Regions from separate parts of the Homo sapiens genome. Here region 1 is linked to region 2. Evidence: fine-mapped expression QTL. A gene starts in region 2. The other region holds a variant in brackets. All regions are shown on one strand. Distances are from middle to middle.

Region 1 (5,224 bases), 32 kb after region 2:
GCACACATCCTCTGAGTTTGTGGCTGTGTCTTCCAGCCTAGCTTGGCCTGTGCACTGTGGCTCAGTGTTTCAGAGAAGGGCTCCTCAGTGAGCAGCTTCATGTGAGGGCCTGCAGGCTCCTATGGGTAATGCACAAATTCAGAGAAGCACAGTAGTGGGCCGCAGCTTCCCAGAGAGCACCCACATACAGCTTGGGTGTTGCAAACCTAGGTTGTGAAATTGTTGTTGGTTGTAACCAGAGTTTGTTTCTGAAGAGTGGGATAGGAAAACAGCCCACTGGGCAATCTGTCCCGCTGGTGCTATCTGTGAAGGGAGCCCCTTACTTCCCACCTGAGTCTCACCCCACTTCCCCACTTGCACTCGCACCCATCTGCTGGGCCTGGAGCTGCTCCCTCTTTAGGGCCATCCCTGTGCTCAGTCCCCTGTGGCCCTGGGCAAGGCTGGTCCTTCTCTGCTCAGCCGGGTGCTGTCAGGGAGGGTGAGCTTGTCAGGATCATTTGGGGGTTGATAGGCTGGCGGGGGTGGCATCTTGGAGGTGGCATCTCTCCTGTGGAGGGTGGGGTTGGAAGGTGAGCTTGTCAAGATCATTTAGGGAGTGATAGGCTAGAGGGGGTATGCCCTTGGCCCCAGCAAGAGTGCACCCCCAGGTATCCCCCCTTTCCTCTCCTTTTCTGATGTCACGCTCAGCCACTGCTCCCGGGCTGCATCCATCAGGATTGAGGAGGGTACGGGCTCTGCTGGCTGAGGTAGGAACCTGGGAGGGATGCTGAGGCCACCCACCTGCCTGCCTGCCCCATCAGGAGCTGGCACTGCAGCTGCACTCTCCCTGCCTGTTTCCTGACATCCTCGTAAATGACGGCTGCACCAGACGTAGGGGAGCTGCGTGTGCTGCAGAAGAGCAAACAACATTGCGCCCTTATCTGGGCCCCGGGGTGTCAAGGCTGCTGTTGAAGCTGCTCTGTAAATAAAGGGCAGGTGGCCTCTGCAGGAGGCACACTGGGCCACCTTCTGCGGAGCGAGACTGCCTCTGGCAGGTGGCTTGGAGCCCTGAGGCTCACCACAGGGTGGAAACACCCAGGTCCTCTCTGAGCCTGACCACGGGCAGCTCTGACTCACCTCCCACCTCGGTGGCGCAGACGTGTGGCAGTGCTTGGCCTGGGCTGTGGGCCACTTCCTGTGCTCTCCAGAACCTCAGCCTTCTGCAGAGTAGCTCAGATGTCGCTGCAGTTCCCCAGTCGTGTGTGATGTGCATTTCACCAGAGTTCAATGATTCTTGTGTTTTTTACTCCAAATCTTCAGCCTTTCTCAAAAATAAAATAAAATAAAACCACTTGGGATGTAGGGCTTTTACTCTGAGAGGTACAGAGTGGCCACCGTCTGTTTGCAGTGTTGCAGACCCTAATCCTTCGGGGCCGGGTGGCAAGGCAAGGCTCACAGAGGTCGAGAGAGGAAGCAGTCCTGCGTGTGGTGGCGGGAGGAACACCGCCTCAAAGACCACGCTCTGCCATCCAGAGCACACGAGGGTTGTTGCAACTCCGAGAGATGTCACTGCTGACCATCTGCTCTCCTTGCAGCATCTGGGCTGATGGGCCGTACCCTGCACCGTGAGCCACCCGCAGGAGACCAGGAGGGCACAGCACTGCACCTGCAGACAAGCCTGCCAGCCCTTTCTGAGGCAGATACCCAGGAACTAACCCAGGTAAGATGTCCCCAGTGCCATGCCAGCCAGCGCTGTGTCCCAGTCTTCCCGCAGGCTGCTCCTCTTGCCTTTCTGATCACAAACAAGCTCTGGGTCATCCATCCGTATTGGCCTCGCACCAAGGAGGAGCTGCTGGCCTCCACTCGGCAGCTGCAGGGAGGGAGGAAGGGCAGTGTCCGTCCCAGGTCCACACACTTCCTGGAACACAACATGCACCACATTCAGACACATTCCTATGCACACACAGCTGCCCTGGCTACCACCTGCACCCATTGTACATGTCCGTGTGTGTGTGTGCACAGGTGTGTATGTTTACCGTGCATGTACATGTGCATGCTGTGTGTAGTGTGCATGTACTGTACACATTGTGCATTTGTGTGTAGTATGTGTGCTATGTGTACATATGTTATGCATGTACTTGTACTGTGTATGTGCATGTGCATGTGTGTGTACTTGTGAGTACATGTGTGTGTTGTGTGTGTTGTGTGTGTATGCACATGTGTGTGCTGTGCATGTGGTGTATGTGTTGCATGTACTATGCATGTATATGTGCTGTATGTGTACCTTGTGTGTACTGTGCATGGGCATGTGTATATGTGCATGT[CTT/C]GTGTGTGGAGCGTGCATGTACTGTACATGTATGTGTACTCTGTGTGTGCTGTGCATGTGCGTGCATGTGTGCTCTGTATACTGTGCATGCATGCAGGTACATGCCTGCTGTGTGTTGCGTGTTCTGTGTGTGCACTGTATGCATGCACAGTCGGGTGCATGGCTCACTCAGCCCTCATGTGCTGAGCACTGGTTCTTAAGGAGGCTCAGCACTTTGTGCCTGGGAGGCTGGAATTTTAATGTTCAGTGTAAATACTCCTATCTTGTCCAGAGGTTGTTGCCTAACATGCTGGCTTTCCAAGTAATTTTTGAAGCTGTACTCAGTCATCATATCACTTCATTTGTAAATATCTCCATATGTATCATTAAAGGATAAGAGCCATTCAGAAAGAACCGTACTGCCACTGTCGCCTTAGGAAACAGGAAGTCATTCCTCAGCACCATCCAGTATCCAGGCAGTGCTCCCACCTTCTGAGCCCTTGCTGAAGGGTGTGTCCCACAGGGTATGTGGCGCACATGCAGTCTCCAGGTGCAGCTTCCGTCTCGTCTTCCCCTACAGTTGATTCCTGGAAAAAGCAAAGCTGTCTGTTGGGCTGAGACTGTGCACTTTGGATCTTGCAGTTCTGTGTCCACGCAGGGCATGGGCTCCCCGTCCCTGAGCCTCTGAGTCGGCAGGTGGGTCTGGGGCTCTGTCAGGCCCGGCCCTGTTTTTGTAGGGAGTGTTTTGTGGATGGCTCTGCCCATGTCCACCAGGAGGTGGATAAAGACACTCTGTCTCTTATGCCTGTTTTTAAAAACCAATTCTTACTTTACGTGTCTGTGTAGGCATAAACTCCTTTGAGGCCAGCTTGTTTGGGGAAAAAGGTGTTCATATTTGCTCTGGGGTAATTCAAGTGGACACAGCCTGTCACTTTTTCCTCCCGGCCTCACTTAGTCATGTCTGGTAATGGCACACACAGCACTGCCTGGTAGGTGTAGCCAGCTCACTCTGCAGGTTCCTAGTCACCTTCAGATACACTCACTGCCTCCAGAACATTCTTGGCCTGGGTCTCGTTTGCTCAGGGTTTTTGAGAAATCCCAATACTGTAAAGATAGACTTACCTGATTCTTTCCCAGCCATCCTCCTGAGAGTGCCTCGGCACGTGGCTGAGACTGGCAGGATCTGAGCACACCCCACTCCCACACCCCACAAAGGTGTCCACGGCCGAGATACTCACTGTATCCCACGGTTGTGTTTAGACTGAAGTAGGAGCAAAGCTTTAAGATGAAAAAATAGGAATTTTACCTGTTAATTGCAATGGTGGCCATGTAGTTGGAGAGGCCCTCAAGTGTCCACACATCAGACTCTCCTGTCACGTGTGGCGTGTTCTTCACCTCAAAGCCCGGGAGCGTTGGGGAGGTGGTCAGGTGACTGCACGGAGCTGAGGGTGAGTGGGGCTCCCCACCAGCCATCCAGGCTGTGTCTCCCCTGGGGCTGCATGGGCACTGCCATCATTAAAGATCCAGCAAGCCCAGTGGCTCAACACCGGGAGGAACAGGCTTCACATTCACGACTGTGGCATCAAGGCCAGTGGCAGAGCGGGAGGAAGCAGTCACCCAAGGTATGGGGTTGGGAGGGCCCAGGAAGGCCTGGTGTGCCTTGGGGGCAAGGGCAGCACGTTGGTCAGATGCGGGCCCCCTTCCTTGCAGGAGGAGCCTAGTTTCACAGGAGACTGTCTTTTTGAGGCAATACATGTGTTTCCTATTTAGAGAATTCCTAGTGCACAGTTGAAGCTCAAGCAGAAGCCAGAGTGAGTTACATTTCTGGGGAAAATAAAAATGCACGAAACCCCCCTTCATCCAGCTGTGGTTTTTGTTGCAGATGCTATTAAAGCCATCATGCTGAAACGTGTCCCAGTGGTGTGGGTTGCAACTGGGGGTGCTCAGGAGAGGGTGGCTGTGATCACACAGGACAGGCAGGGGTGACACGGCGAGCCCTTCTGTCTCTGGGGCCCTGGCCACTGTGTCACTGTGGTTGTGGAGGGTGGAGGGCCGGGGGCTGTAGGAGGTGGATTTGACAGAGCCCCTGACTTGCTTCTGTTGTCCGCTTCTCTTTGCGGCTGTGGAATCCACTAGGGCCCACGCCATGGACGCGGTGCCTGGACACAGTAGAACTGGAGGTGGTCTAGGGCAGTTCCCTGGGACACTCCAGCTCATGCAGCCTCATCTGTCTTGTCCTGCTTTGGGGTTGCTGTGTCCACGTCCCTCTGTCTCCAGGGAGGAACCAGGTGGACACTCAGTGTCGACAGACACTGGGTCTGGCGGGAGAGTGGGTGGGAGCCTCGCTGGTGCCTGATGGTGGGAAAGAAGCCTGCTGCACTCCTGCCGTGGTTCCTGATAGGAACAGATGTGCCATGGCCGGTCCCTGTGGGCACAGGTCCCAGGGGTTGCTTGGGTGACGCCTCAGCCTCCTGCCTTATGGCATGGGGCGACCAGCGTACCACTGCCTGTGACGTCTCCATAAACAACAAATGCAAACACACATGGTAACAGGAAAGCCATGCAACTCATTCCATTCAGAGTCAAAGGGTTCCCAGGGAGCCGAGCCTGGTGCTGGGACGGGGGTGAGACTGAGGGTGCGGTCAGGCTCACTTGGGGCTCAGGTAGGGCTCACGTGGAGGTGTGGGACTGCAGCTTCTGGGCATGTGGGGAGCCAGGTGTTTCTGTCCTCACGTCTTTGTTTGGCAGAAACCCTCTGCCCACTCCACAGCGTCATGTCCCATGTGGACCAGTTCTGGTGATTTGCTGGAACATTCTGAAGTCATTCTGGGGCTCCCTGCCTTCTATGAAACTATTTTCAGAAGGTAACATCCCTTTCTTTCCTTTTGTTTCTCTTTTTTAGGAACTGGAGAATGCATTGCATCTTCCTCAGGGACCCCC
Region 2 (5,489 bases):
TGGGTGAAACAGAGGCTAGGCCTCAGCGACACCACCTTGTGAAGGGGTCAGCCTCACCCATGAGCCACCCCATTCCAGCCCAGCTCTGGCTGGGAGAGTGGGGAGGTGGTGCTGCCGTCTTCCTGCAGGAAGGCCCCTGATAGGGGGCAGGAGAAGCAGCACATTACCAGGTTGTGCACCTGGTGGTGCCAGCCACTGGGCACAAACACCATCTCGCCCGCTTCCTGCGTGATCTCCAAGGGTGGGCCAGCAAGCTGGTTCCGTGGGTGCAGGTGTGTGTCGCAGAGTGCTGGGGAGGTCACGTCGTAGGGCAGGTTGCCGTGGCGGTCCCGCAGGGCCTCTTCCTGCCCTGGGGGGAAGAGGAGCCACTTCTTCCTCCCACAGACATTGACAGACCAGCTGAAGGAGCGGAAGATGTCAGCATGGAACGGGGACCTGCGGCAGCAAGAGCGCCTGGTTCATGCCTGTAGGGGCTGGTATGGGCTTTGCTTGGCACCCCAGAGGCCTGGTCCAACTGAAGGAGGGGTGGCCCCTTGGTCTCAAGGGATGGCACCCACTGTGAGGCCTGTGCCAAGCAGCCCCCCTCCTGCCACCCTGGGCCTCCCAGTCCGTTCTGTCACCAGGCCCCTTCGGGTTCCACTCCCACATCCGTGGCCTCACCAGCTGCCCGCAGGCCCCGCGTAGACAAAGCGGTAGTCATCCACATCCAGTGCATCCCAGAACTCATTCAGCCAGTCGGACGAGAAGTACACAGGCAGGGTGAAAACGTCCTCCACCGGAAAGTCCCTGTGAGGAGGGCGCAAGGGCACCACCGACAGCACGTGAGGCACGAGGAGACTAGGGCAGCACGAGTGGGGCAACTGAGACCAATCGGCTCCAGTGGAGCTTCCAGATGGCTGCAGCCCCCAAAGAGCCCCAGACCCTCCTCTGAGCCAGACGCTGCTGGCGGGGGAGGGGGCGGGGCAGTCTGACTACAATGGTTCTGCTTATTAGAAAGTACTGATCATGCCTATAATCCCAGTGCTTTGAGATGCTGAGGTGGATGCATCACCTGAGCTCAGGAGTTCAAGACCAGCCTGGGCAACATGGTGAAACCTAGTCTCTTTAAAAAAAAAAAAAAAAAAAAAAAAAGCCGGGAGTGGAGACGCCTTCCTGTAATCCCAGGTACTAGGGAGGCTGAGGAGATCTCTCTCAAAAAAAAAGGAAAAAAAACCATATTGACCTCCCAAAGAACAACACTTGCAGCCATGCGGAAGACAATCCAGTTTCTTTTAAACTGATTAAAGTGCCTCACGGGGAAAAATAGCTCCGTTGTGCACCCAGGGGCCACCTTCATCAGAAAGGCCTCTGGGTTCACGCAGCGCTAGGGAAGGCAGCGCCTCGGTGCGTCCCAAGCCCCATTACCTGCACAAGTGCCAGTCTTTGAGGTAGAGACAGCCCCTGGGAGAGGAGTAGCCCGCCTGTATGTACTCTTTCCAGTAGGTGATGTAGTCTCTGAGAGTCATGTGCTCTTTGGGGTTCGAGTTGTATTCCTGGACCCCACAGTTTGCAACTGGTACAACCACGTCTCCTGAAATGAAAGGCACGGTCCATGCCATCTCCCTGGGCCCCGTCCTCACTCCAAACCGTCTGCAGAGGAACTCTCCAGGGGCCACGCGCCTGGCCTCCCTCACCCTCCCTGGTGCCCCTCTCTAGGCGGGGGCCTCCCGGGCCTGGGTCCCGCCGGCCTTTCCTCCCCGCCCGGGGTCTGCGGCCGCCGCCCCACCGTAGGTCCGTAGCAGGTGGTCGAAGTCGGGCCTCCCCGCGGGCGTCACCCAGCGCCGCCGGCTGCCCCAGCCCTGCGTGAAGGCGCTGGAAAACACGCAGGGCAGGTTGGGCAGCAAGAAGCCCCGCACAAAGTCGGCGTAGGAGAAGGCGCCCGGCTCCGAGACGAAGGCTACCCGGCCCGGAGCCTGGCCGACGCCGGGGACATCGACCCCCAGGCCTCGGAAGTGGCTGTCGGCGAGGGCGCGCGTCTCGCGGTCCATCCAGCTCAGCACGGGTCGAAGGACCCTCCTCCTCACTTCCGCCGGAGCGGAAACGGTGAGGACCAGCCTCGGAACCAGAAGACGCAGGGCGCCGCGTTTCTGCCCCGCCAGCGCCTGGGGCTCCGGGCCTGCACGCATGCGCGCGGCTCGCCGCGGTCTTCACTGCGCAGGCGCCGAGCGGCCGAGGCGCCGCGGTCGGCTCTGGGACTCGTCTGGCGTCCCTCAGGTGAGCGACGGTGTTGGTCTGTTGGGCGCCCGGCCCAAGCCAAGCCGTAGCGTCCGCCCTCGGCTCAGTCCGCGCGCTGTGGCTGACACAGCCCGAGCCCTCCTTCCCGCATCCCCGGGGGGTGGGGGGTATGCGGGCTGCGCTGGGAGAGGGGCGGGGACAGAGGCGGTTCTGGGGGCGGGAGTGCGGCGGTGCGGGGGCGCCCAGGGATGATGGGACCCGGAGAGAACGGTGGGACCCAGAGGGAGAGCTGGGGGGCCCTGGGATGGTGGGATCTAGCGGAGATGGTAGGGTCCTGGAGGAGATGGTGGGGACCTGGAGAGGACGGTGGCACTTGGAGGGGATGGAGACGGGATCTGGAGGGGACGGTGGGACCTGGAGGGGATGGGGACAGTGGGGACCTGGAGAGGACGGTGGGATCTGGAGGGGATGGGTACAGTGGGGACCTGGAGAGGACGGTGGGGACCTGGAGAGGACGGTGGCACTTGGAGGAGATGGGGACATTGAGGACCTGGAGGGGACAGTGGGGATTTGGAGGGGACGGTAGCACTTGGAAGGGATGGGGACAGTGGGTTCCTGGAGGGATCAGTGGCACCTGGAGGGGACATGGGATCTAGAGAGGATGGTGGGGACCTGGAGGAAAATGGTGGGAGGGCTGGAGGGGGCAGGGTAACCTAGATGGGCGAATGGGGCCCACAGGGGACCTGGAGGGCATGGCAAGGGGCCCCAGGGGATGACGGGTGTCTGGAGAAGATGGTGGGGAATGAGGGAGGGTGTGAAATGAAGGTGTGGTGGGAGTGTGGGTAGGGATTTGGGGCTGTGTACACATGAGCAGGGCTGAAGTGGGAGGACATCGGAGTAGTGACATGAGGAGTGTTTTGCCAAACTTGCAACTGGAGTTACCCCAAAAGTGGCGGCAAGGGAGTTCCCCACACTATCCTCAGGTGGGACCAGTTGGGATACCAAAGAAAGAAGTGCTAAATGCATGGTAAGCCCAGAGCAGTTTTTTTTTTTTTTTTTTTTTTTTTTTTTTTTTTTGAGACAGTATGCAGTGGCACCATCACAGCTTACTGCAGCTTCCACCTCCTGGGCTTGATGAATTCTTTAATTCTGCTTCAGCCTCCCAAGTAGCTGGGACTACAGGCATGAGCCACTATGCCCAGCTTAGTTTTGTTTTTTTGTTTTTGTTTTTTTTTTTTTTTTTTGTAGAGACAGGGTCTCTGTGTTGCCCAAGCCGGTGTTGAACGTTTGGGCTCAAGCAATCCTTCTGCCTTGGCCTCCCTAAGTGCTGGGATTACAGGTGTGAGCCACTGCGCCAGGCCCTGCCTAGAGGTTTTGTTAGGGGAACTTTCATATAGAGTGGGCTGCGGTAGTCCTCGAGACGGGCAGTAAGGGAAAAGGGATGTCCTCCCTAGGTATGTCTCTTGGAAGGGGTGTGGGTTATGGAGTTTATAGGAAGGTTTCAGGAATTTGGCTCAGGGCCAAGGCCGTTTTCTTTGTAGTAAACCTAGATACTTTCTTCCATGCCTGGAAATGTTAAAGGCCCTGGATTGGGTTGAAGCCTGGTGGGGAAAACCTGTGGTTGGGGCACAGAGGGATCAGGGTACTCTGTGATTTTCGGCCAGGACACGAAAGTGGGGCCATGGGGGACCCTATGTGATGTATGTCTTGGTGTGCTGGAGAAATCAGCTCAAAGCTACCCACATGGATGCAGAAGGAAAGATAGCAGATTTATTGCCCCCGAAGCCTGGCAGGCTGTGTGCACATAGGTGCTCTGCGAGAGAGTGCAGAGTCTGGGCAGCATTTCCCAGGCGTCTTGACAGGGAGGTGGAAGGAGGAACAGTTAGAACCGCTCATCTCTCCCAGAGAAATGAGAGGCAGCTTGTGCTGGTTTGCACACAGTGCGAGGCCTTTGAGTTAGGTTTGGAGGTCTGATGACATTCTAGGGGCCATCAGACCATGACTGTGTCTTGTAAAATCTGGACACTGGGCTATCTCATTCCAGACCAAACAGAGGCATCCTAAGCGGGAGAGGGGCACCTGCCTTCCCTTTATGAAGCAATGGAAATGTTGTTTTATTTACTCTTATAAGTGGGGATATGGGAGGTTCTAGGAGTGCTGGGGCTCTGAGCCTTGCTGGAAGACTCTTTCCAAGGGGTGTGAGGTTTACCCAGGAGAACAGGGAGGAGCAGAAGAGGGAGGACCAAGGTCTGAGGAGTTGGAGGGAGGACTAGGAGGAAAGTGAGTTTTGGGAGTCTGAGTCCAGGTAAAGGTGGGATATGAGGGCAGGGACAGGAGGCGGAGAGTTGTTTTGGGGATTGTGTGATTCAGTGCGTGCTATGGTCCCTTCCTAGTCAGCCCTATTGTGGCTTGTGTGATCACGGTATGCAATTGTTTATTGGGGTTTTTTTTACACTAGAGAATCAGAATGTCTGGAGAAGTTACAGTTGCAGAGAAAGAATCACCTCCAGTTCCGTCCAGAGATGACTGGGGTTTTTTTGCTTTGGTTTTTTTTGGTTTTTTTGTTTTTTGTTTTTTGTTTTGTTGTTTTTGCTGTTTTGAGACCGCGTCTTATTCTGTCACCCAGGCTGGAGTGCAATGGCATGATCTTGGCTCACTGCAACCTCCGCCTCCCAGGTTCAAGTGATTCTCCTGCCTCAGCCTCCTGAGTAGCGAAGATTACAGGCGCGCACCACCACGCCCAGCTAATTTTTGTATTTTTAGTAGAGACGGGGTTTCACCATGTTGGTCAGGCTGGTCTCGAACTCCTGACCTTGTGATCTGCCCGACTCGGCCTCCCAAAGTGCTGGGATTACAGGCGTGAGCCACCGCACACCCAGCCGAGATGACCGTTTTTTATTCCTGGTGTAGAGCCGGCTTTTCTACATTCCTTCACACATACATTCATTCATTCATTCATTCTCTCTCTCCACTCTTCTCTCCCCCCAGTCCTTGCCTATACGTTCACGCACATGTATGCACACACACTCACACATACACAGTCTCTTTCTCCATCGTGTATAATATACATATATAAACTTTTGCTGCTTTTAGTCTTTTGTTTTTTATTTAACAATATGCTGTAACATCTTGCCACATATTGACCTCAATATTGACAATTAATTGACCTTAATTGATCTTGCCACATATTGTTCCTTAATTGCTAGTAGTCATTTGATTTTGGTTGTGGTGCATGCAGATCATGGGAGGCCAATGGGGAAGATGTGGGGAGCAGA

Evidence for each region. PIP is the estimated chance that this variant, and not a neighbour inherited with it, causes the effect.
Region 1: its variant is the best candidate, but not a certain one, in a credible set for the expression of SNAP47 in prefrontal cortex (BrainSeq, PIP 0.85).

The regions. Positions count from the first base shown.
Region 1 is chr1:227,765,385-227,770,608 of GRCh38, forward strand. It overlaps SNAP47 (synaptosome associated protein 47), which reads left to right. Exons shown (of 5, transcript NM_053052.4): 4 at 1,575-1,699. Among named protein-coding and RNA genes, the nearest start is that of SNAP47, 33 kb to the left of the region's middle. RefSeq lists enhancers at 1-585, 586-1,335. The variant CTT/C (reference allele first, on the strand shown) is at 2,304.
Region 2 is chr1:227,733,247-227,738,735 of GRCh38, forward strand. SNAP47 (synaptosome associated protein 47) reads left to right here and starts at 2,189. Exons shown (of 5, transcript NM_053052.4): 1 at 2,189-2,253. JMJD4 (jumonji domain containing 4) reads right to left here and starts at 2,056. Exons shown (of 6, transcript NM_023007.3): 1 at 1,766-2,056; 2 at 1,405-1,570; 3 at 661-786; 4 at 168-435. The coding sequence starts at 2,027. RefSeq lists silencers at 1,578-1,777, 2,238-2,527.